Linked DNA regions of Homo sapiens. The protein of the gene in region 1 interacts with the protein of each later gene in a pairwise test. Each region holds a gene or a part of one and is shown in the gene's direction. Other genes may lie near its edges. The genes, in order: GOLGA2, ITPKB, SYNPO2L, EFCAB6, PSMA4, UBE3C and SUDS3.

Region 1 (3,500 bases):
GCCACCAAAAGCAGGGAGCCCTAAGGGAGCAGTTACAGGTGAGTGGAGGGTGTGAAGTTCCGTCCTGTCCTCTGGAGAATGTTTCTTTCCTTCTTTTTCAGCACTTGCTTGGGTTTCCTCCCAAAGGTTCACATTCAGACCATAGGGATCCTCGTATCAGAGAAAGCTGAGTTACAGACAGCCCTGGCTCACACTCAGCATGCTGCCAGGCAGAAAGAAGGTGGGAATCTGGGCACCCCATCATCCTTCAACCTGGCACTTTGACAGGCCTTTAGGGGGAGTCCTTTGGGCCCCATCTCAACCTCTCTCATTCCAGGAGAGTCTGAAGATCTGGCCAGCCGCCTGCAGTATTCCCGGCGGCGTGTGGGAGAGTTGGAGCGGGCTCTCTCTGCTGTCTCCACGCAGCAGAAGAAGGCAGACAGGGTGAGTCCAACTGCCTGCCCCGTCCCCTGGCATACTGGCTTCCCAGATGGAGGAGTGAGCCTAAAGGTCCCTTCTGCAGGGTTGACTGTCCTGCCTAGAAGGCAGCATGGGCCATTTATCACTGCTTTTGTGTGTGGTTGCTAGAGGCATCCTGGGGCTGAGTCAGCTGCTGTGGGTGAGTTTGGGGGCACTGTGGGGAGTGAACACTGGACGCAGAGCTCGGAGGCCAAGTGCCCGCTGTGCCGTTACCTGGCTGTGGCCTTGGTCAAGTCCTAGGTGGGGGAATATGGTACTTGTACTGTGAAGGTACAGAAGAGTATCTTTAGTATGTTACCATTTGTGTAGAGAGAGGGAACGTGTGTGTGTATGTGTACCTATGTACTATGACAATATACATAAAACGTGTCTGCATGGATTCATAACAAACTCAGGAGAGAGGAACAGCACGGCTGGAAGATATTTCCCTTCTGCCCTTTCGGAGTTTTGGACTATCTGAATATATCATCCTTTCAAAAACTGAACAAAAGATAATTTCCCCCTTCCTATTTGTGCCCCCACCCTCGGGGAACAAATGAGCTTAGAGAGTCAGATATACCTGGGTGTTCAAATCCGAGCTCTGTCTAAGTGATCTTAGGCAAGCACTTAACCTCTAATATTCCGTGTTGTCCATCTACAAAATAGAGGTAATAATAGTAACTGTCTCATGTGGTGGTTATGAGGATTAAATGGGATTGTTAGCATGGTGCCTGGTGAAGCATTCAATAAAGGTTCAAACAGTGGTAGTAATAATGATAATAACAATAGCAATATTATCTGATCTCTCTGGGCCTCTGTTAGCCAGCTGTAAATTCGATCTTGGCCAGGTGTGGTGGCTCATGCCTGTAATCCCAGCACTTTGGGAGGCCGAGGCAGGTGGGTCAACTGAGGTCAGGAGTTCGAGACCAGCCTGACCAACATAGCAAAACCCTGTGTCTACTAAAAATGCAAAAAATTAGCCAGGTGTGGTGGCGTGCCCCTGTAATTGCAGCTACTTGGGAGGCTGAGGCAGGAGAATTGCTTGAACCCGGGGGCGGAAGTTGCGGTGAGCTGAGATCGTGCCACTGCCCTCCAGCCTGGGTGACAGAGGGAGACTCTGTCTGAAAATAAATAAATAAATAAATAAATAAATAAATAATAACAAAAATTAGCCAGGCATGATGGCGCATGCCTGTAATCCTAGGTACTCAGGAGCCTGAGGCAGGAGAATCACATGAACCCGGGAGGCAGAGGTTGCAGTGAGCCAAGATGGCGCCACTGCACTCCAGCCTGGGTGACAGATGGAGACTCCATCTCAAATAAATACATATATACATACATACGTACATACATAAATTCGCTCTCTCTCCCTGTTCCTTCCACCCTTACCAAGTCCTTTTTTTTTGAGACGGAGTCTCACTCTGTTGCCCAGGCTGGAGTGCAGTGGCACCATCTCGGCTCACTGCAAGCTCTGTCTCCCGGGTTCATGCCATTCTCCTGCCTCAGCCTCCCGAGTAGCTGGGACTACAGGCACCTGCCACCACGCCTGGCTAATTTTTTGTATTTTTTTTTTTTTTAGTAGAGATGGGGTTTCACCGTGTTAGCCAGGATGGTCTCGATCCCCTGATCTCGTAATCCGTCCCCCTCGGCCTCCCAAAGTGCCAGGATTACAGGCGTGAGCCACCGCACCCGGCCACCCTTACCAAGTTTTTTTAAAAACAAATGAGACCAGCCGGGTGCCGTAATCCCAACACTTTGGGAAGTTGAGGCGGGCGGATCACTTGAGGTCAGGAGTCAAGACCAGCCTGGCCAACATGTTGAAACCCCCTCTCTATTAAAAATAAAAAAATTAGGCCAGGCATGGTGGCTCACGCCTGTAATCCCAGCACTTTGGGAGGCTGAGACGGGCGGATCACAAGGTCAGGAGATCGAGACCATCCTTGCTAACACAGTGAAACCTCGTCTCTACTAAAAATACAAAAAAATTAGCCGGGTGTGGTGGCGGGGGCCTGTAGTCCCAGCTACTTAGGAGGCTGAAGCAGGAGAATGGCATGAACCCGGGAGGCGGAGCTTGCAGTGAGCCGAAATTGCGCCACTGCACTCCAGCCTGGGCAACAGAGACTCCATCTCAGAAAAAACAAAACAAAACAAATTAGCCGGACATGGTGGTGCACGCCTATAGTCCCAGCTACTCAGGAGGCTGAGGCAGGAGAGTCACTTGGACCAGGGAGGCAGAGGTTGTGAGCTGAGATCTCACCACTGCACTTCAGCCTGGGTGACAGAGGGAGACTCTGTCTCAAAAACAACAACAGCAACAACAAAATGAGACCATGGGCTTGGAAATGCCTTGAAAACATGTCAAGTGTGATTGAGAGTGAGGAAGTGTTACTGTGGAGTACTTACTGTAGCTGTTGTTACTGGTTGGCCAGCTGCTCCTCTGCCTGCTATATCCTGACTTAACCTTTCTGTATTTACAGTACAACAAGGAGTTAACCAAAGAGAGAGACGCCCTCAGGCTGGAGTTATACAAGAACACGTAGGATGGGGGATGGTGGGATGGGAGGTCTGGGGGCCCTCAGCATGGGTGGTGTGCTGGGAGGTGGGGGGTACAGGTAAGCATGATGAGGTAGTCATAGAGGTGTGCATGTGTGCCCAGCAAAGCTCTAGTGCCAGCTGTGCCACTGACTCATGGTGTAGCCTTGGGTAACTCGTATCTTTTCTCTGGCCTGTACATGTGACTTTTGATTCCTGGGGTTCCTTCCAGTGCCACAGTTCTGTGGTTGTGGGGCAAGGGTAGAGGGTGGATCACCAAAGCAGTCCTTTCTGTTCTTCGTTCATTCCTTTCTCTACTGCCTCTGGCCATAGCCAAAGCAATGAGGACCTGAAGCAAGAGAAATCAGAATTGGAAGAGAAGCTTCGGGTCCTAGTGACTGAGAAGGCTGGCATGCAGCTTAACTTGGAAGAATTGCAAAAGAAGTTAGAGATGACGGAACTCCTGCTTCAACAGGCAAGAGGCTGCAGCCCCATGGGTGGTGGGAGCGCCATCCAGCTGGGGCCATGGT
Region 2 (3,500 bases), on another chromosome or scaffold:
GCAGCATGACGTCCCCTGGCAGGAGGGGAACCGGGAGGATGGCTACCTCTCGGGGCTCAATAACCTCGTCGACATCCTGACCGAGATGTCCCAGGATGCCCCACTCGCCTGAGCTGCCCACGCCCTCCCTGGCCCCCGCCTGGGCCTCCTTTCCTCCTCCTGTGCTTCCTTTCTCGTTCCTAACTTTTCCTTCACTTACACCTGACTGACCCTCCTGAACTGCACTACAAGACACTTTGTAGAAGAGGAGATGAGAGTTTCTAGTCATTTTCCTAACTTCAGGGCTTGGAGGTGGTGTTTGCACTGCTTTTTGTAGAGAGGGTCACCTACTAGAAGAGAAATGCCCAGTCTTAGAGGTGGGTCAGGTGTAGAGCTGGAGGGGGTCCCTGGCTGCTGAGGGGACCCTACCAGATGAGCCCTGCCTCTGGGAGCCCCCTAGGAAGCACCAGCCTGGACCTACCACCTGCGGAGGCCTGCTGCCCCCTGGCGGCCAGTGCTGTTAGAGTGCTGCCAAGCACAGCCTTATTTCTGCCGGGGCCTCCCCACCGGAGAGCCCAGGGGGCCGGCCGGGTTCCTGGTCCCTGGCTGGGAGCAGGGCTTTCTGGTAGTTGGGGCACAAAACCATCGGGGAACCACATGTTGACTGTGAGCAAAGTGTCTTCCGATTAGCAGCCTCAGGGATGCCCTGGTGGCCTCTCCAGGGCTGCTCAGGCAAGGCCCCCCACCCATCTGGTATGGAAACCTGCCGGCTCCAGGCCAGACCCAGGAGCCAAGAGAAGGCTGAAGCCAGCTTGGCTGTGTTCTCTGATCTAGGCCTTCCCAGAGGAGGCGAGCAGAAGCTGTGCCACTTGGAATTGCAACCCATGAGTTCAGAAGGCACACTCTGCCATGCTGAGCTCCAAGGGTGCTACCAGGGGAAGATGGGATCTATAGAGTCTCTGGGCCCTGGCCCCAGGGAGGAGCACATTTTTCTTGACCCTCACCTACCTGGTGCTAGTTGGTCAACCCTGCCTGCATACATGGGCTCCTGTCATGGGGCCCAGAGTCCCTTGCAGATATAGAAATAGGGGAGGAGCTCAGGTCTGCGCCAGGCAGGAAGAAGGCAGGCTTCTGGCTTCCAGAGGTGCCGCGGTGGCCTCCTGGCATCATTTGTTATTGCCTCTGAAACAAGCCTTACTGCCTGGAGGGCTTAGATTCCTGCTTCTCCAATGTAGTGTGGGTATCTTGTAGGGTATGTGGTGGATGCCAGGGCGTGCTCCAGGCACCTCTTCCTGAAGTCTCTGCATTTGGAGATTCGTGGAGAACCTATTTAAGCCCAATTTTAACTGAAAGCCAGTGAGTCTGATATGGAAGGGAATGTAAAATTTGCCTGACTTCTTAAGAACAAAACCCCCAGCTCTGTGCCCCATGCTCCTTGGGGCTTGCCACCCACTCCTTTGCTGTCAGAGGTACAGGAGCTGGGAGAGTCCAGGAGCTAGGGACACAGAGGGAGACTATGGACCAAGGTGTGTGTGTCTGGAGGAACCACTGCCCACCCCACCACCCCGGGGTCTCTGGGGAACTGTCAACCTGCCCACGGGACATGTACATTTCCCCTTTTGTGCTGGAAGTGTGAGTGACACTTGCTGGGGGTGGAGGGTGGGACACATGAGGATGTATAAGTACAGATTTTAAAAAAGGAAATCAACTTACACTTCCTGGCTCTTGTTTAAAACAGTGGTGAGCTCCTGTGTGGGCCGACTTGCTAAAGGTCACACACGCGCCCGGTGGAGCACGAGAGACCTCGTGGCAGCATGTGATCTGGAAGGCAGGCAGGACGGGGGCGTTGGGGAGCCAAAGTCAACTCTGGGCCTCTGGAGCTATAGTGACTTTTGGGCTAGAAGGGACCCTGGTGGTCTGTGCTTCAGCCATTTGCAGGGCAGGGGCATCATTAATTCAGACGTAAAGATTCTATGAATATGGACTGGCCAAAAGTTATCCTTACTCCATCTGTGAAAGAAGTTTGCTAAAGCAAATCATGATATGAACAAAAATTACAGGGGACCTGTTTAAGAGAACAAAATGTTCCAAGCACTTTAGGCAGACACCAGCTGTTTGCAAACAATGTGCTAATATGCAAATGATGTGCTTATTAAAGGAGGCCCATGGGGCCTCTTATTGGCAATACTTGGCTGTGGGTTACATTAAATATGTGAACATAGTATGAAGTAGCATCATTTTAGGGTTATTCTGTTACTTAGGGTTTTTGTTTTCTGTTTTTTTTTTCTCTTTTTTTGTATTTACCGTGCTAGTTCTCTTCTACACCTACTCTGTCTCTCAAGCCATTTTGCCACTCGCTTCCCTGCCATCTGGCCCTTCCCTTTGTCTCAGTGGGATAGATGGATTGTGAAATGGAATCTCCCAGAACCCCTGCCCTGGCAGCCTGGAAGACCGTGCCTGCCCAGCCCTCGTCACCACAGGGACTCCTTGGGTCCTGGCAGTGCATGTGCCAGCAGGCAGGACAAACTCTGTGTACCTGTGCCCAGGTGAATGGGCGCAGGGTCCTCTTGCCCTGTCCTGCGGGGGGCCCCACGAGTTCCTGGCATTCAGCACTGCTTAGCATTCTCGGAAGGTTTCTTCAACTGCTTGCTTTTCCCAGGCTTGCCTTTAGTGTCATGTAAGACATTTTTAAGTTATATTTATTTTGTTGGGTTTTAAAATTGCACAGAACACTAAGACCGAAAGGCTGGACTCTTGTTTCTCCTTGAAAGCTTTGCCTTTGTTTTGAACTTCCTTTCCCACTTGGTAGAAAGAGCCCAGAAGCAGCCCTGGCCCTGTAAGATGGACTCTTTCATCCTTCAGTTGTATTTAGCTTTGAGTTTCTCTGCATCTGTCCACCCCATGTGTATATAACCCAGCCCCTGGCTCTGGGGTGGTCACCTCGTCAGTGCCTTTTGTTCTGGAGGAGAGGACCCCCCCCGCCTGCCGAGAGGCTCTCTTCCTGTTCTGCACCCCTCTCCCCATGGGACCTTGGAGAAAACTGAACTGTTACAAACCCCTGCACAGTGCCTGTCAAACAGATGCAAACCTTCCTGAATAAAGCCTTGGAGACCAGCGCTGTCTGTGGTGTGATCCTTCTGGCCCCCAGCCCTGAGACCTGGCTGAGGGGCAGGCTGGGGAGTCTTAGGAAGCTAGAGGGCCCACATGGGGGCTGTTAGGGGAGTGGGTGTCAGACTGGGTAACATTTTAATTTGTAAAGAATATAAACCACTCTCCAAAATGAGTCTTTTCAACCCTCATGAAACTTTGAAATAGTAGCTCAGAGACTAGAACATCAACCAAGAAGCACTGTCCCCAAGTAGGGGGGTCTCCGGTGCAGCGATCGCTTCTGGGGCCTTACTCTAAGCTAGACTGGGGCTGAACACGCCCATCGGAGTTCCCGTTTTACCCAGATCAATTCCCTGAACAAAGATTTATAGTCTGTTTTACAGATGAGGAAACTGAGGTTTAAATGAAGCAAC
Region 3 (3,955 bases), on another chromosome or scaffold:
GCATACACTAGGTGGGCAGCTATTTTATGAAACTCTGTAGCCTTTGATAATCACAGTTATAGCACCATAATGTTATGCCTTGTAACAGAGACATTCTCGTAATGGAAACCTAGAGACAAGTAGAGATTGTATTAACATGGGTTGGTATGTTTATGCACACCTACACACCTTTCCATGACCACGTATGTATTGCAATAGGTAATTTGTTTTTTTATAGTTTTTTGTTTGTTTGTTTGTTTTTTTTTTTTTTTTGAGACGGAGTCTCGCTCTGTCACCCAGGCTGGAGTGCAGTGGCACGACCTCGGCTCACCACAAGCTCTGCCTCGCGGGTTCACGCCATTCTCCTGCCTCAGCCTCCAGAGTAGCTGGGACTACAGGCGTCTGCCACCAAGCCCAGCTAATTTTTTGTATTTGTAGTAGAGACGGGGTTTCCTCGTGTTAGCCAGGATGGTCTCAATCTCCTGACCTCGTGATCCGCCCACCTTGGTCCCAAAGTGCTGGGTTTACAGGTGTGAGCCACCGTGCCCAGCCTATAGTTTTTTGGTTTTTTTTTTTAACTTTTTTTAATAATAAGAAAATAGAGATGGGGGGCCATCTCACGATGTTGCCCAGGCTGGTCTCAAATTCCTGGACTCAAGCAATCCACCCACCTTGGCCTCCCAAAGTGCTAGGATTACAGGCGTGAGCCACCATGCCTGGCCCACCATTTATTAATTAACAGATAAATTTATATAGCGAGAGTGCATTCTTTCCTGGGATCTTGGAGCAAGCCCAGCCATTCTTTGCCAGCTATGGAATTGAAGCCCCTGCTGCTGCCACTTTGAAAGGGTCTTTGGAGGAAAGCAGTTGAGATTAGCCCATGGTCCTATTAGAGAAGGCACAGTTCCTGAAAGGGTGTACATTGGTTATAGAGCCCAGAGAGTTTGTATTCTGAGTCCTGAATAAAAGGCCCATGCAGGAGAATTGGGAACATGGAGGGCAGAAGTTTGTACTATAATTAGCTCTAGGAGTAACACAGAAGGGGGAGGGAGGGGAGTACAAGCGGCATCTATTTTGAGCACATCTGCGATTGACGGGACATGTGTGCTGGACTGTAATGATCCCAGGGCCAAGTTGCCTGCCTGTGGTGTGTGGTGTGGGGGGGAGGCCTGGGGCAGCAGGAGCAGGACAGCCGGACAGGAAGCCCAGACGGGGTTCGAGCACCTCAACTTCTCTCCTGGGGACACTGTTCAAACTCCGGGGGCCATAGGCCAAGCTGAGCGATGGGTGCTGAGGAGGAGGTGCTGGTCACACTATCAGGGGGAGCCCCCTGGGGCTTCCGACTTCATGGGGGGGCCGAGCAGAGGAAACCGTTACAGGTGTCTAAGGTAAGGGAGAGCCCCTGAAATGAGGCTTCAGGGAAAGGGAACCCAAGGGATCCTGGGAAGAGATGTGTGGTGGCATATGGCGGGGGTTGGGGGGGTGGGAGGCTGTGAAGATGGGGTGGGTGGTGGGCAGGGAAGTATGCTCAAGTCTCATAGTGGGAGTAGCGTCTGACCACAGGCTTCCTGTGGGGGTCTATTAGAAAAGAGAATTCGCGGTTTCCAGGGAGCAGAGGAAAAGGAAAGGCTCTGCTTCAGTTCCCTGCAGCACTGTGGTATCAGAGGCCCAGCTCTGGTCATCCAGTGTTTGTTCTCTTGGGTATGTGCCTCTACTCCAAACTCCAGAAATACGGGGAAGGTTCTAATTTCTCTCTGACTAAACTGATATGTGATGAACTGAAACTGCCTCGAACAGCCTAGCCCAGCCCAGCCCTACCCTGCCTCACCCTGCCCTGCCCATGCCTTCAGTGCTCTTTCCCTAGGTCAGATCCTTTCTCTCACTAGGCAAGACTTTTTTAGGTGCTAGGAGGGTTATGGCAAGATCTGGCCTCACAGATGAAGTCATTATCCTTTTGGTTTCACCCTACAGGCTTAGTTTTCCGAACTGTAAAATGTGGGTAATAATAGTACCTGTACCTACTTCATGGAACCATTCTAAGGATTAAATGCAATAATACATGTAGCACAGTGCCCAACACTTAGTAAGAACTCAATAAATGGTAGCCACTACTACTATTATTACTTTGGCATATATACATTTGTGTGTATACATGGCACACATATACCCAAATAATCACAATCTCCCAGAATACCGCTGGACTCCCTCCAACCTGGAGTACTGTTCTAAAATCTTGACTGTGTAATGGCGCCTGGGGTTACAAGGCCTAGTAGAGAATTACCAGCCAATATAGATATTGCCCTTGGAGAAAAAGCTTGTGGAGATAATCACCATTTCTTTCCGTTTTTTTTCTTTTCTTTTTTTTTGCGACAGAGTCTTACTCTGTTGCCCAGGCTGGAGTGCAGTGACATGATGGCTCACTGCAACCTCTGCTTCCTGGGTTCAAGCAATTCTCCTGCCTCAGCCTCCCAAGTATCTGGGATTACAGGCGCACACCACCACGGCCAGCTGATTTTTGTACTTTTAGTAGAGACAGCGTTTCACCCATTGGCCAGGCTGGTCTCAAACTCCTGATCTCAAGTGATCCACCCACCTAGGCCTCCCAAAGCACTGGGCTTACAGGCGTGAGCCACTGCACCCAGCCAATAACCACCATTTCTAGTTACCTACCCCATGCAGTTCTTCCCAAGCCTCTTTCATTCAATGGTTACCCTATTTCCCACCATATGATGTATTTCTTTCTCCAGTCTGTATACTTTCTTCCCTCTAGACAGGCCACTTCAACTGCAGCCACTTCCATGCATCTCCCCACCCTTCTTACCCTGCAAAGTAAAATCCCCTCCTGTGGGTCCTTCCCATCTTTTCCTTTCATTCTATTCCCTTTGGAGCCCCCTCTTACCTACAGTGTCTCCTTCAACATCTCAGATTCGAAGACGGAGCCAGGCTGGCAGAGCAGGACTCCGAGAGAGGGACCAGCTCTTGGCAATCAATGGGGTCTCTTGCACCAACCTCTCCCATGCCAGTGCCATGAGCCTCATCGATGCCTCAGGAAATCAGCTTGTCCTCACTGTGCAGCGGTATGGACCTCTCTCCTCTTCTCTTCCCCTAATCCAGGGCTCCCATTGCCTGTCTCAGCTCTATGTCTCACTGGCCTGGCTTTAGCAACTAACAGGTACCTATTTCTGCTCGTGCGTTTCTGCTGGAGTGCAGATGGTTTGTGTCTGCCTCCCAGAGGGCTTGAATGTATCTGCAATTAAGGGATGGGGATGTCAGTGGGTATTTGACTGATGAGCCTACTTCAACCCCTGGCCTGTTTCCTCCTCATTACATCTTCCTCTAAGCCTATTTCCACTCACAGCCCTTCAAGCACATTTGCCTCCCAGTTTGTCTTCATATCTCCACTCTTCCCGGCCCACCCATTCCAACTGTATGACAGCCTTCTCTCTCCCTTACCTCTTCCCTCCCCCTTACCTCTTCCCTCCATCCCTTCCAGATCTCTCTAGCTGTCAGTACCCAGCCCATCTCTCAAGCTCTGTCATCTTTCCTATCCAGGTTAGCAGACGAGGGTCCTGTGCAATCTCCATCTCCCCATGAGCTTCAGGTGCTGTCACCCTTATCTCCACTAAGTCCTGAGCCCCCTGGTGCTCCAGTTCCTCAGCCTCTTCAGCCTGGGAGCCTTCGTTCACCTCCTGATAGTGAGGCTTACTACGGAGAGACTGACAGTGATGCTGATGGCCCTGCCACCCAGGAGAAGCCCCGTCGACCTCGCCGCCGAGGCCCCACAAGGCCCACCCCTCCGGGTGCCCCACCTGATGAGGTCTACCTGTCTGACAGCCCTGCAGAGCCAGCACCTACTATCCCTGGCCCTCCCAGCCAGGGTGACAGCCGTGTGAGCTCCCCGTCTTGGGAGGATGGGGCAGCCCTTCAGCCACCCCCAGCTGAGGCTCTGCTGTTACCCCATGGCCCCCTCCGACCT
Region 4 (3,500 bases), on another chromosome or scaffold:
CCACCCAAGGGCCACACCTGCCTGGGCCACAGTGGTGAGACTCTAGGGAATGGAGAGTGGGTTAAGCCAGCCACAGTTAAGTAGATGCCATGCAGAAAGTTTCTTCACAGCTAGTTTTGCAATTTTGTGCAAAATCAGGTTCCATCTTAGCCTAGCTTCTAGTTTAGACAAACAGGAGCTAGTATCAAAAGCTTAGACCAAGTTTACAATAAAAAAAAAAAAAAAGACTTTAGACAGTTCTGCCAGCTCAGTTCTTCTGTGCACAGAGAAAAGACTGTCCCCATTCCATCTTCACGGGAGCCACGAACGTGGAGAACATGGAGACACGTGGCAGCAAGGCCGCCATCAATTCCATCCTTCCTCCGCCTCCCTGGGCCTCAGTTTCTCCTTCTGGAGATCTGTGGAGGCTCTAAGACCTTGCTAGGACGTGCACGGGCTTCTGCGGAAGAGCACACCAGTGCCGCCTTCTGAGCCCTCCCCAGTGAAAGGGGCCACCCCAGTTCCCAGCTTCCAGCTGCACTGTCCGTCCTCAGCAACCCCGCAAAGCTGGGGTCAGAGTGGGGTCATGCTAGGTGCTGCGGGTCAGCCCACAGAGACTGTGGCACTCTCCCCCCGCCCCTCCCAAGGCACCACTCTGTGGTTCCGAAGAGTTCTCCCGCCCCCACTCCTCAAATCCCTGCACCAGACCGGAGTGGATTGAGATTGAAGGCTTTTCAGGAGAGAGTAGGCTCCTGACATGGTCCTGGTCACAGCCCTTGTCCCATCTGGCAGCTGCCAAGGCCACCACCATGTAAGTGTGGAGGTCAGGTCAAATGTCTCCCTGCAGAGGAGCTAAAAAGGGGACTTCATTTTCTGGTGATTTGGGAGCTTTCTCCACCCCATTAGGCAGCAGAAAGATGTCCTCGGGGGAAGGCAGCTTGGGTGCCGCCCCTCCCTGCAAGGTGGGTCAGAGGTGGGGGCTCTGGCCGGGCTGGTGGTCCTGCCCTGTGATGTGTGGTGTGGGAGGTCATGTGAGCCCCACACCCTCTCTTCCCCACCTGTGGATCAGCTGATTGGGCAAATTGGCAGCTCATGAAGTCTTGGGTACCTGGGGAGCACACATCATACGTGCCAAATGATGTAAAAAAAAAATGAAAGCAGCTTAACCCTGTGCTCATCTGTCTTACATAGTGTTATGTTAAAATTCAACTTTCCCAAGATGTGTTACGCATTGTTGCCTACCGTTCACCTTTGTGATATTCAAACACATTGGGGCTAAATCATGTTCAAATGTCTTGTTTTCAATCTAATAGCACCTAAATGAAGTAATCACAGTGTAGTGTTCTAATTACTAGATATAATTACAACCTTGTGAATTTTTTTTAACACTGTTCATTATAATAACTTACTAGAAAACACAGACTGAAATCTCTTTTTTTCCTCAAACTATTTTCAAATTGGCCCATATCTGCCCGGCCATCTCGTTGCATTCCCTGGGAGGTGGTGTGGCCTGAAGTGTGTTGGGGTCAAAGCCCAAGTCACTTTACCTCCCCGAGTCTCCACTTCCTAATCTGTGAAGTGGGGATAGAGACCTGCCTTCTTTCCGGGTTGCCAGTGGGGAGGTGTAAATGAGATGGCTGATGTAATACACGTTTTTAAACAGCCCACACAATGGTCAGGGGGCGGGTGCGCATCTTTGTGACGAGTTCTGGCAGGCTCCCTCCTCGATTCAGAGCCAGCGGAGCAGGTTGGGAGGTGAAGCCGGAGCAGGGCTGGGCGAGGCGGGGGCGAGGCGAGGAGGAGCCCACCCCAACCCTCGTGTTCAAAAGCTCCCTCCTCACCCCTTCTTGTCTTGTGTCTAGAAAGAAGCCGGCGCGGAGACGCCATCTTTTTACTCTGCTCTGCTGCGTATTCAGCCCAAAATTGTGCACTGCTGGAGGCCAATGCGGCGCACGTTCAAAAGCTATGATGAGGCTGGAACAGGGCTGCTAAGCGTCGCAGATTTCAGGACGGTGAGCACAGCTCTGCGCCCAGTGCCTCTGCAGGGAGCAGCTGCCAAATGCCAGCGGCCAGAAACTTCCCACGGGGAGCCCTCTACCTGCTGCCGAAGGCCCGGTGTGACCTGGCTGCTTCAGATCTCACTTCCCTGGGACCCCCAAGTTATCCAGTCCTGGGTCCACTCGCCTCACCTTCAGACCCCGGGTTCTCCTTCCCAAAGGTTGCTGGAGCCCTGCGTGGATGCCCCATACCTGCATCGCCAGCTCCTCAGGGTCAGTGCCTGAGCCCAGGTTCCTTAAGGCACTGCCATCACTGCTGCTGCTGCTCCGAGCCCTCTCCCCACACCTGGGCTCTCCTGCAGGCTCTGAAGAGCATCTCTGACCTATGTTGGACCTTCCAAGGGGCCTGCAAAGTGAGCCCTGCCCCTGCAGTACACAGCGGGGCTCCACCATTGGGCATCTGCCCTGATGTCCCTGGGTGCCCTCCATGTCCCACCCCCAGAGCCTAACAAACACCCCGCAGTGGTTTTCCAATCCACATTCACGTTCCTCTTTCCTTCGGGGTTAAGTATAAATCTCAGTCAGGGATTCTCCCTATCCCTCATGCAAAGAAAGGAAGGAAGTAGGGCAGGTTCTGTTATTCCCTTCCGGCAACTTCCCAGGAATTCGGGCGTGGTGCTGGGAAGGTGGCAAAAGAAACCTTGCCCTCCACAGAGTCACAGATCAGATGGCGTAATTGAGGGGCCGTCTCAGACACCAGGCTCAGCTTCCTTTTCTGCCTTCATCCCATGGGGCCCAATGGCCAGGCCTGCTGACCTCAGCCCCATAGGACCTCTGGGCCATCTAGCCCTGCTTTCCAGTCTCCTCCTAGAAACAAGTTATAACGCAAATGTGGATAGGAAATGTATGGCCTCATCTTTATATACTATGAGGGTCTGTCAGGATTTGTTTCAGCTTCACATAATGGGGCGGGGAAAATAGCAGCTTAAGGTGAAAGTTTATTTCACTCCCACATAAAAGAAGTCCAGAGGTAGGAAGGTCAGAGCTGGTGTGGTGGCTGGACAATCATCAGGGACCACATTTTTGCTCTGCTGTTCTCAACTCCTGGCTTCCTTCCTCTAGGCCACCTCATGATCCAAGGTGGCTGCTGGAGCCCCAGCATCACAGCCATATTCCAGGCAGCAGGTGGAAAAACAGGAGAGAAAAGGGCATGCCCCTCTCCTTTAAAGGAGGCTTCCTGGATGTTCTACATAACATTCTTACTTAGCTTCTCAGGCCAGAACATACCTAGCTGCAAGAGAGGCTGAGACATGTTCCCGGTTAGCTGGATACAGAGGAGCTGGGAGAGAGTCAGGTTCTATAACTGAAGAGGAAGGGGCAGTCAGTATTGGGTTTACCACCAGCAGGCTCTGCTCCAGGCTCTGTTACGGTCTTATCACAGCAACTCTCTGCACTCAGCACCCACTGGCCCTGCCCTCCCCTGCCTGGGCGCACCCTGAGGCTCTGCCCCAAGTTAGGGCTGCA
Region 5 (3,500 bases), on another chromosome or scaffold:
TTAGTAGAGACGGGGTTTCACCATGTTGGCCAGGCTAGTCATGACCTCCTGACCTCAGGTGATCCTCCCGCTTCAGCCTCTCAAAGTGCTGGGATTACAGGCGTGAGCCATTGCGCCCAGCCAGCAACTGTTAAGATTTTAACATGTCATCCTAGTTCATTGAAACAGCAACCTTACGAATTAGGTGATGTTATCCCTGTCTTCTAACTGAGGACACTAGGGCTTAATGAGGTTAAGTGAGTTGACCAAGATCAACATTGGTAAATTGTGGAGTCACAATCTCACACTGTATTCCAAACTTAAAGGCTTGATACTGAACAATCTCATTACTCACAGATAGACATCCTGCACTGTGCTACTTTTAGTTAACAGTTATCAAGTCTTCTCATCAATGATATCTTTGCTTGTGTGTATATATGATAAAGCATACGTATGTAGTTATATATTTATACATAGGTTTGGTATACTTTACCAGAGATACAACATTTGCGTGGGTTGTGATACCCTCTCCTGTTCTTCTTAATCTACTAATCTCTTATTTTAAGCTCATGTTAGCAATTCCAAATACCTTGTTCAACTTAAGCTATATGACTATATAAAAGAATATTTCAGTCGAGCTTGGTGGCTCATGCCTGTAATCCCAGCACTTTGGGAGGCTGAGGTGGGTGGATCACCTGAGGCCAGGAGTTCCAGATCAGCCTGGCCAACATGGTGAAGCCCCATCTCTACTTAAAATACAAAAATTAGCTAGGCATGGTGGTGCATGCCTATAAATCCCAGCTACTTGGGAGGCTGAGGCAGGAGAATCACTTGAACCTGGGAAGCGGAGGCTGCAGTGAGTTGAGATCATGCCACTGCACTCCAGCGTGGGTGACAGAGAGAGACTCTGTCTCAAAAAAAAAAAGAATATTTCTAAATGTTTTTCAGAAATTGTGGTAAATTAACATGTTGCTTTATGTTAGGACAGTTTAGCTCCTGGTGTTCCTTAGAAAATGCCATTTACGGCCGGGCATATTGGCTCACGCCTGTAATCCCCAGCACTTTGGGAGGCCGAGGTGGGTGGATCACCTGAGGTCAGGAGTTCAAGACCAGGTTGGCCAACATGGTGAAACCCCTGCCTCTACTAAAAATACAAAAAATTAGCCGGGCGTGGTGGTGCGCACCTGTAATCCTGCTACTCAGGAGGCTGAAACAGGAGAATCACCTGAACCCAGGAGGTGGAGGTTGCAGTGAGCCGAGTTTGCGCCATTGCACTCCAGCCTGGGCAACAAGAGCAAAACTCCATCTCAAAAAAAAAAAGAAAAAGAAAATGTCATTTACATGCAGATTGCCCTCTTTTGTCTACTTCCACCCAGTTTCAAGGAAGCACTACTCAGTTTCCCTGGTACAAAAAAATTCCTTCCCCTTTAGGTATCAGTCTGCTTTTCTTGGCCATTTCATGCCTTTTATTTATTTATTTTTTTAAGAGACTTGAAAAGTCCATAAAAAATAAGCTGTTATTACCAGTTGAAGATTCTGGCTGAGCCCTCAGAGGTTCCAACAGTTCCGTCTAATCAGCACAGCTAATAGCAGGCCGGCAATAGCAATTGGTTGATTATACTTTTTCTAAGGGAGTGACAAAATGGCTGAGGAGACGATATTTAAGTAAAAATTATAATTAAAACATTACAAGATCAAAAGTATATTGTTCTCATAAAAGGGAATAATGTTAAGTATAAAACATAGGAGAGTGCTGAACTAACGTTTCAATGATGTGGCGAGCATAAACCATGAGTGCCTATTAAGCTTCTCTGCTAAGTATGCCTGCCTGCCTGCAATACAAATAAATGTATGTGTTTGTTTTTAGTGGAAATTGCAACACTAACAAGAGAGAATGGAAAGACAGTAATCAGAGTTCTCAAACAAAAAGAAGTGGAGCAGTTGATCAAAAAACATGAGGAAGAAGAAGCCAAAGCTGAGCGTGAGAAGAAAGAAAAAGAACAGAAAGAAAAGGATAAATAGAATCAGAGATTTTATTACTCATTTGGGGCACCATTTCAGTGTAAAAGCAGTCCTACTCTTCCACACTAGGAAGGCTTTACTTTTTTTAACTGGTGCAGTGGGAAAATAGGACATTACATACTGAATTGGGTCCTTGTCATTTCTGTCCAATTGAATACTTTATTGTAACGATGATGGTTACCCTTCATGGACGTCTTAATCTTCCACACACATCCCCTTTTTTTGGAATAAAATTTGGAAAATGGAAATGAAGGAATAAATTCTCTGTAGCAGTAATTGTTAAATATACAAAAACTGACAGGGCGATTACTTTTTGCACATTGTGGCTTACAGTCCTTTCACAAAGATGGGCACGTTCCTCAGGCTGGCCAGATTATTCGTCTCTGTCTGCAGGAATTGGTTTGAGAATGAACACGTGAGCTGAACAAAGCCAGAATTGATGTGTGGGTGTGGATCTCGCAGCTAGGACTGAGGCTGCCCACAGGCAGCAGCTCAAGCTGCGCGGAAGATGAGGTGTAGAAGTTAAGGCCACAGAGGAAAAGTGGAACCAAGAGATGAGAACAGTTACGTGTTGGCTGAAGGGAGCTCTGTTGCTGGGGTTTGTTCAACCTGAGTTCCCTTGGCTATCTGTGGCTTCATGACAGAAGTGATACAGGGCAGTGGTACTTAATGCGTAGCCATGGTGCTTTAGCATCACCTATGCAGATTCTGATGTCCCATCCCAGATCTACTGAATTAAAATCTCTGAGGGTGAAACCCAGTAATCTGTTCTAACAAGCTCTGCATGTGATTCTTAGGAATGCTAAGTAAAACTTTAAGAAGTTTTTGTTGCATATTAGAATCACCTAGGAAGCTTTTGCAGCTTGTAAGCATGCTGTATCGATTAACTCAAGCTCTGTGGTGGAACCCAGATATTAACATTGCTTAAACTCTTCAGGTGATTTCCATCAGCTAGGGTGAGTGCATTGAGCCATCATTTACCCTTCTCTCAGCTGTTGTCAACCAAATATGTGCTCCCAGTCTAATTTCTCATTGTAGATTTTCTTAATGCAGCTCCCTGCAGTTTTCTGTATAGGCTAAAGTATTTACAAGCCCTATTTGCAGCACTTTTTTGAACTTCTAAATTATTCTCTTACTCTGTACAGCAGGTTCTCGTTATTTTTGGTAGTTATGTTCTAAAGTCACCACAAAAACTAACAAAATACTGAACTCTTGCACCTAGAGAAAGTACTGGGTTAGGGTCCTACAAGCCACTGGTCACATTTTTATCAACTGATCAGTACATAACCTGTTTTTTGTGTATTTCTACTTAAAGACACCTTTTTAAATGTGTATTGTGGATTCATTAACATAGAACTCAGCCAACAGCTCTTTACGTGAATGTTTTTGTTTTGTTTTGTTTTTTGAGACTGGGTCTTGCTCTGTCACCCAGGCTGGAGTGCAGTGGCGTGATCATATTTCACTGCAGGCTCAAACGGTCTTCCTGCCTTGACCTCCCA
Region 6 (3,500 bases), on another chromosome or scaffold:
GAGAATTGCTTGAACCCGAGAGGCAGAGATTGCAGTTAGCTGAGATCACGCCATTGCACTCCAGCCTAGGTGACGAGAGTGATACTCTTTTAAAAAAGAAAAAAGGAAGAAATCCTCATTGCATATTCATCCATCCCTCCCATCCCTGTAACACCTGGCAACCACTGATCTTTTTACTGTTTCTACTCTAGCCTTTTCCAGAATGTCATATAGTTGGAATCATATACTATGTAATCTTTTCAGATTGGTTTCTTTCACTTAGTACTATGCATTTAAGGCTCTTTTCATGGCTTGACAGTTCATTTCTTTTTACTTTATTTTTTATCAATTAATAAGCTTTTTTTTTAGAGTGGTTTACGGTTTACAGAATAATTGATGGGAAACTATAATAGAGTCCTCAAAACCTCCTCTCCGCTGCACGCTGTTTCCTTTGTTATTTACATCTTGTATCTGTGTGGTACATTTGTGACATTGGAGAACTATTGAATTTTAATGAAGTCCAGCTCACCAGTGTTTTTTTCATGGATCTTGCTTCTCGCGTTGTGTCTAAAAAGTCATTACCAAAGCCAAGGTAACCTAGATTTTCTCGTATTTTCTAGTAGTTTTATAATTTTGTATTTTACATTTAGGTCTCTGATCCATTTTGAGTTAATTTATGTGAAGGATATAAAATCTGTGTCTAGATTTTTAATTTTTGAAGTTTTTTTGTTTGTGGATGTCCAGTTAGCACCATTTCTGAAAAGACATTCCCCAACTCCATTGAATGCCTGCCTTTGCTCCTTTGTCAAAGATCAGTTGGCTATATTTTTATGGATCTATTTCTTTTTTTTTTTTGAGACGAAGTCTCGCTCTGTCTCCCAGGCTGGAGTGCAGTGGCGCAATCTCGGCTCACTGCAACCTCTGTCAAGCAGTTCTCCGGCCTCAGCCTACCGAGTAGCTAGGATTACAGGTGTGCACCACCACACCTGGCTACTCTAGTACAGACGGGGGTTTCACCATGTTGGTCAGGCTGGTCTCGAACTCCTGACCTCGTGATCTGCCCGCCTGGGCGTCCCAAAGTGCTGGGATTACAGGCATGAGCCCCTGCGTCCGGCCTTTACGATCTGTTTCTAAGCTCTGTTATGGCTTTATTCTCTCCTCCATTGATCTCTCTCCCTTTTGTCAATACCATACCATCTTGATTACTGTAACAGATCTGTAGTAAACTGTACTACTTAGTATATATATTAAACTAAACTTTTTTTTAATTTGAGAGGGAGCCTCCTGTTGCCCAGGCTGGAGTGCAGTGTTGTGACCTCGGCTCACTGCAAACTCTGCCTTCTGGGTTCAAGTGGTTCTTCTGCCTCAGCATCCTGAGTAGCTGGGTGGGCATGTGCCACCACACCTGGTTAATTTTTGTATTTTTAGTAGAAACTGGATTTCACCATGTTGGCCAGGCTGGTCTTGAACTCCTGACCTGAAGTGATCCGCCTGCCTCAGCCTCCCAAAGTGCTGGGGTTACGGGAGTGAGACACCGCGCCCAACCATAGTAAGCATTGAAGTCTGGTAGTGTGAGTCCTTCGACTTCCTTCTTCTTTAGTATTGTGTTGGCTATTGTGGATCTTTTGCCTCTCCATAAGAGTCAGTTTGTTGATATTCACAAAAAAAACCTGTGGAATTTTGATTGGGATTGTGCTGAATTGGTAGATCAAGTTGGGAAAAACTAAAATCTTGACAGTGTTGAGCCTTCCTATCCATGAATATGGAATATCTCTTAATTTGTTTAGTTCTTTTATTTCTTTCATTGGTTATATAATTTTCCTTATATATACCTTATACCTATTTTGTTAGATTTATACCTAAGCGTTTATTTTTAAGGGGTGCTAATGTGAATGGTATTGTGTTTCAGTTTCAAATTCCAGTTCATTGCTTATTTGTAGAGAAGCAATTGACTTTCATGTACTAACCTTATGTCCTGAAATCTTGCTATAATCACTTCTTAGTTCCAGGAGTGGTTTTTTGGTTGATACTTGGAATTTCCTGCACAGATAATCATTTCATTTGCAACCAAAGACAGTTTTATTTCTTCCTTCCTGATCTGTATGCCTTTTTTTTCTTTTTTCTTTTCTAAGACCATCAGAAAGCAATGTGTTTTATTGTCTTACTGCATTAGGTAGGATTATAGTTGAAAAGGAGTGGTGAGAACTTGCCTTGTTCTTAATCTTAGTGGGAAAGCTTTGAGTTTCTCATCATGAAGTATGATGTTTGGTGGGTTTTTTGGTAGATATTCTTTATCAAATTGGGGAAATTCCCCTCTATTCCTAGTTTGCAGAATTTTATCATGAATGAAGGTTGGGTTTTGTCAGATGCTTTTTCTGTATCTGTTAATGTTATGTGATTTTCCTTCTGCAGCTTGTGGATATGATGGATCACATTAAGTCATTTTAGAATATTGAGCCCGTCTTGCGTATCTGGAATAAATCCCACTTGACTGTGATGCATAATTCTTTGTATACGATGTTAGATTGAGCTTGTTGATATTTTGTTCAGGATTTTTGCATCTCTTTTGATGAGGGACATCAATTTAGGGTGTTTTTGTGATGTCTTTGTCTGGTTTGGTATTAGGGTGATACTGGCCTTATGGAATGAGGATACTCTAGGGCCTACCAAAACCAATTACTATAGTTTTTTTGTTTTATTTTGTTTTTTTGAGACAGAGTCTCCCTCTGTCGCCTAGGCTGGAGTGCCTGGAGTACAGTGGTGCGATCTCACTGCCACCTCCATCTCCCGAATTCAAGTGATTCTCCTGTCTCAGCCTCCCAAGTAGCTGGGCTTACAGGCGCCCACCACCAGGCCTGGCTAATTTTTTTGTATTTTTAGTAGAGATGGGGTTTCGCCATGTTGTCCATACTGGCCTTGAACTCCTGGCCTCAAGTGATCTGCCCACCTCAGCTTCCCAATGTGCTGGGATTACAGGTGTGAGCCACCATGCTTGGCCTCAATTACTCTAGTTTTAATTCCTCCCCTATGATAGGTCTAGACTGTTAAGATGGTAAGAACTTGATTGCTTAGTTTTGTAAAACTGCCCTCTATTATATAATTGAAGGGATTACCTAGTTTTGTAAAACTGCCCTCTATTATATAATTGAAGGGATTACCTAGAATATTTTAACTTAAAATGTTTTGTGCTATTTTGTTTTAAAAAGCAGAGGTGTAATGGATGTGATAGTATAATGCTCCATATACATTGTAGTGGAACATAAAAACTTTTTCTTACAGATCTGGCATCAAATAAAGTCAAAATATTTTCTAAGATCAAATTAGTTCTTTTTTTTTTTTTTTTTTCCTTTAAGAGACAGGGCCTCACTGTGTCGCCCAGGCTGGAGTGCAGTAGCTATTCACAGGCATGATCATAGTGCACAGCAGCCTCAAACTCCTGATCTCCAGCGATTCTCCTGCCTCAGCCTCCTGAGGAGCTGGAACTCCAGGCTTGCCACTACCCAACCCCAGCCTGGCTCTGA
Region 7 (3,500 bases), on another chromosome or scaffold:
AGTTGAATTTCTTGGGTTTGGGTTCTAAGTACCACTGAAGGAAAATACAATGCATCTCATGAGAATTGTTGGAATAGCCTTCCAGAGTCAGCTGTTTTCTTTAAAAGACCTTTGTGAGGATATGATACATGGATACACATGTAACATGTATATGTGTTATTTTTGGTTTTTTTTTTTTTTTTGAGACAGAGTCTCGCTCTGTCGCCCAGGCTGGAGTGCAGTGGCGCAATCTTGGCTCACTGCAGACTCCGCCTCCCAGGTTCAAGCGATTCTCCTACCTCAGCCTCCTGAGTAGCTGGGACTACAGGCACACGCCAATATGCCTGGCTAATTTTTTGTATTTTATTTATTTATTTATATTTTTTGAGACAGAGTCTCGCACTGTCACCCAGGCTGGAGTGCAGTGGCGCCATCTCAGCTCACTGCAACCTCCGCCTCCCGAGTTCAAGCTGTTCTCTCCCTCAGCCTCCCAAGTAGCTGGGACTACAGGCACCCGCCACCACGCCCAGCTAATTTTTGTATTTTTAGTACAGACGGGGTTTCACCATGTTCGCCAGGATGGCCTCTATCTCCTGACCTCGTGATATACCCGCCTCGGCCTCCCAAAGTGCTGGGATTACAGGCGTAAGCCACTACGCCTGGCCAATTTTTTGTATTTTAGTAGAGACGGGGTTTCACCTTGTTGCCCAGGCTGGTCTCGAACCCCTGAGCTCAGGCAATCCACCCACCTTGGCCTCCCAAAGTGCTAGGATTACAAGCATGAGCCACCATACCTGGCCAGTTTTTTTTTTTTTTTTGAGACAGAGTCTCGTTCTTCCAGCCAGGCTGGAGTGCAGTGGCATGATCTCAGCCCACTGCAGTCCCTGCCTCCTGGGTTCAAGCAATTCTTGTGCTTCAGCCTCCCGAGTACCTGGGATTACAAGCGCACACCACCATGCTGGCTAATTTTTGTAATTTTAGTAGAGATGGGGGTTTCACCATGTTGGTCGGGCTGGTCTTGAACTCCTGACCTCAAGTGATCCACCCACCTCGGCCTCCCGCAGTGCTGGGATTACAGGCGTGAGCCACTGCACCCAGCTGTAACATGTGTATGTTTTATCATAAACACAGGAACATAGTTGACATAGTTTTTTTTGGTTTTTTTTTTTTTACCTACCAGTATATGGAGCATGTTTCCACACTCGTAATATTCTACACCACATCCATGACCTTTCTTTATTAAAGTGTTTAGAAAGTTGTATCAGAATGACTTGAGGGTAGTTGCATTTTGTTTTGTGTCTTTATCTCTTTAATAACTTACAGTCCCTTTAGAACAACTGTGAGTATTCTCCCTCTGTATTTTTATTTTAACCATTACTCAAGACATGACTGTTTACATAGGAGAGCTGGCTCAGATGTGAGAGAGAAACAAGGGGAAGTGTTAGTGTTAGTATGAACTTAGCCTTTTCTTATGCATTGTACAGTTCGGCCCTTGTGATAATACATATTTAGCATAATGAAGGTCCCCTGCCAGTTTACCAACTAATAAAGGGCCAAAAGCAACTTTAAAACTTGCATTTAAACCATTCTCGCTGTTCTAATTGAATTTAAAATTCTTTTTTTTTTTTTTTTAAGATAGAGTCTCGCTCTGTTGCTCAGGCTGGAGTGCAGTGGCATGATCTTGGCTTGCTGCAAGCTCCGCCTCCGGGGTCAAGCAATTCTCCTGCCTCAGCCTCCCGAGTAGCTGGGATTACAGGAGCCTGCCACCACTCCCGGCTAATTTTTGTGTTTTTAGTAGAGATGGGGTTTCACCATGTTGGCCAGGCTGGTCTCGATCTCCTGACCTTGTGATCTGCCCACCTTGGCCTCCCAAAGTGCTGGGATTACAGGCGTGAGCCACCACGCCCGGCCTAAAATTCTGTTTCTTTTAACAGTATTTTCAGAAAGTACATTGACTTGGAAACCTGAGTTTTCAGTTCATAAGTAGCAGGTTAAAGAGAATTGAGACCCTAGACTGGAAAAAGCTCATTATGGGAGTGAAGTGCATCCTTTACTTGCCATGTCTTGGCAATAGGTTATTTCCTTATACCAGCAAAACAGAATAAGCCATCATGCTTTGCTGGGAGATGTGTTTTACTAAATTTACACGAGTTTATGGGTCTGGTTAGCCAGATCTTTGCAGCCAAAATGAACCAAAGTTTATGTTATTAATCGACGTGGGGCTGGCCCAGGCCAGGGTTGCTAGCTGCAGCTCCGCTGATACTTCCAACTCTTGTAATCCAGCAGGGGCTCCTTCATCCTGTGGCAGCTGCTTTTGTCCCATTTGGGCTTTGGCCCCCAGCAACTTCACTTTCATCCTTGGCCTTGTCTCTGAACTTGTAGAAATAAGAAGTGGCCCTACACTACAGGTTGAGAGTAGATGCAGGAGTTGAAAGGGGAGTGTCTGTCTTATCTACTGTATTCAAAGCAGCTTTCCCAACTGTCCAGGCCAAATTAGATACCCTTTGGTATACGTCATGGCACTTGGAACTTTGCCTGATTAGCTGTTACCAGGTGTGGTTATTTAATGTTCCTTATCCCCAGTGTATTTGAATCTCTGTGATAGTGGAGAACTTGTGGCCTTTCTCACTGTTTGTCCCCAGCCTCCAGCATAGTCCGTGGTACACAGTAAGTGCTTAATGAGTATTTTTGAATGACTGACTAAAGGGTTAAAGTCAGCCTTCCTTCTTGTTGGTGACTGACTTGGACAAATAGAAAATAAATAACGGTGGCTTATGCCTGTATATTTTGTCTGTCCAACCTTCTTCAGTGTTCTGGTGTGGGGTCAGAAAGGGGAAACAGAGTTTTTATTTAACAATTTTTAATTTACTTTTTGAACTGGGTCATATAGTCCAAAAAAAGGGAAAAATACATAGTTTTCCAACACTTTCCTCAGCCTTTTCCCTTCTGTAGAGGGACCAAGGAATATAAGCTTTAGATCCCAAAGAAGATTAGGTGGTCTTCTAACCTAAGGATGGAAGCCTTTATTTATTTATTTATTTATTTATTTTATTTATTTATTTATTTATTTATTTATTTTTTGAGATGGAGTCTTGCTCTGTCGCCCAGGCTGGAGTGCAGTGGCGCCATCTCGGCTCACTGCAAGCTCCGCCTCCCGGGTTCACACCATTCTCCTGCCTCAGCCTCCCAAGTAGCTGGGACTATAGGCACCTGCCACCATGCCCGGCTACTTTTTTTGTATTTTTAGTAGAGACGGGGTTTTACCGTGTTAGCCAGGATGGTCTTGATCTCCTGACCTTGTGATCCGCCTGCCTCGGCCTCCCAAAGTGCTGGGATTACAGGCTTGAGCCACCGCGCCTGGCCTCAGGATGGAAGCCTTTAAATTAAGCTAAATGGGAAATCCAGGCTATTCCTCAAATGTGAATTATTAAGACTTCTTTAATTATAATTTTTGTTGTGATGGTGTTTTTGTTTTGTTTGGTTTTTACTTCCTGTCTCTGTCCCTCCCTTTTTAAAAATGT

What was found.
Region 2: the proteins of GOLGA2 (region 1) and ITPKB interact in binary tests that used the Homo sapiens proteins (3 or more experiments, as listed by UniProt).
Region 3: the proteins of GOLGA2 (region 1) and SYNPO2L interact in binary tests that used the Homo sapiens proteins (3 or more experiments, as listed by UniProt).
Region 4: the proteins of GOLGA2 (region 1) and EFCAB6 interact in binary tests that used the Homo sapiens proteins (3 or more experiments, as listed by UniProt).
Region 5: the proteins of GOLGA2 (region 1) and PSMA4 interact in binary tests that used the Homo sapiens proteins (3 or more experiments, as listed by UniProt).
Region 6: the proteins of GOLGA2 (region 1) and UBE3C interact in binary tests that used the Homo sapiens proteins (3 or more experiments, as listed by UniProt).
Region 7: the proteins of GOLGA2 (region 1) and SUDS3 interact in binary tests that used the Homo sapiens proteins (3 or more experiments, as listed by UniProt).

The regions. Positions count from the first base shown.
Region 1 is NC_000009.12:128,262,508-128,266,007, reverse strand, and holds part of GOLGA2 (golgin subfamily A member 2), read left to right. Parts: coding exon 1-38; intron 39-126; coding exon 127-220; intron 221-316; coding exon 317-423; intron 424-2,915; coding exon 2,916-2,974; intron 2,975-3,303; coding exon 3,304-3,445; intron 3,446-3,500. UniProt on the Homo sapiens protein: Peripheral membrane component of the cis-Golgi stack that acts as a membrane skeleton that maintains the structure of the Golgi apparatus, and as a vesicle thether that facilitates vesicle fusion to the Golgi membrane.
Region 2 is NC_000001.11:226,631,283-226,634,782, reverse strand, and holds the end of ITPKB (inositol-trisphosphate 3-kinase B), read left to right. Parts: coding exon 1-112; 3' UTR 113-3,093; downstream 3,094-3,500. UniProt on the Homo sapiens protein: Catalyzes the phosphorylation of 1D-myo-inositol 1,4,5-trisphosphate (InsP3) into 1D-myo-inositol 1,3,4,5-tetrakisphosphate and participates to the regulation of calcium homeostasis.
Region 3 is NC_000010.11:73,653,230-73,657,184, reverse strand, and holds the start of SYNPO2L (synaptopodin 2-like protein), read left to right. Parts: upstream 1-1,155; 5' UTR 1,156-1,262; coding exon 1,263-1,367; intron 1,368-2,878; exon of another isoform or gene 2,879-2,904; coding exon 2,905-3,056; exon of another isoform or gene 3,057-3,146; intron 3,147-3,531; coding exon 3,532-3,955. UniProt on the Homo sapiens protein: Actin-associated protein that may play a role in modulating actin-based shape.
Region 4 is NC_000022.11:43,529,306-43,532,805, reverse strand, and holds part of EFCAB6 (EF-hand calcium-binding domain-containing protein 6), read left to right. Parts: intron 1-1,841; coding exon 1,842-1,991; coding exon of another isoform or gene 1,992-2,249; intron 2,250-3,500. UniProt on the Homo sapiens protein: Negatively regulates the androgen receptor by recruiting histone deacetylase complex, and protein DJ-1 antagonizes this inhibition by abrogation of this complex.
Region 5 is NC_000015.10:78,546,944-78,550,443, forward strand, and holds part of PSMA4 (proteasome subunit alpha type-4), read left to right. Parts: intron 1-1,846; coding exon 1,847-2,001; 3' UTR 2,002-3,500. UniProt on the Homo sapiens protein: Component of the 20S core proteasome complex involved in the proteolytic degradation of most intracellular proteins. This complex plays numerous essential roles within the cell by associating with different regulatory particles.
Region 6 is NC_000007.14:157,145,426-157,148,925, forward strand, and holds part of UBE3C (ubiquitin-protein ligase E3C), read left to right. Parts: intron 1-3,500. UniProt on the Homo sapiens protein: E3 ubiquitin-protein ligase that specifically catalyzes 'Lys-29'- and 'Lys-48'-linked polyubiquitin chains.
Region 7 is NC_000012.12:118,407,555-118,411,054, forward strand, and holds part of SUDS3 (sin3 histone deacetylase corepressor complex component SDS3), read left to right. Parts: intron 1-3,500.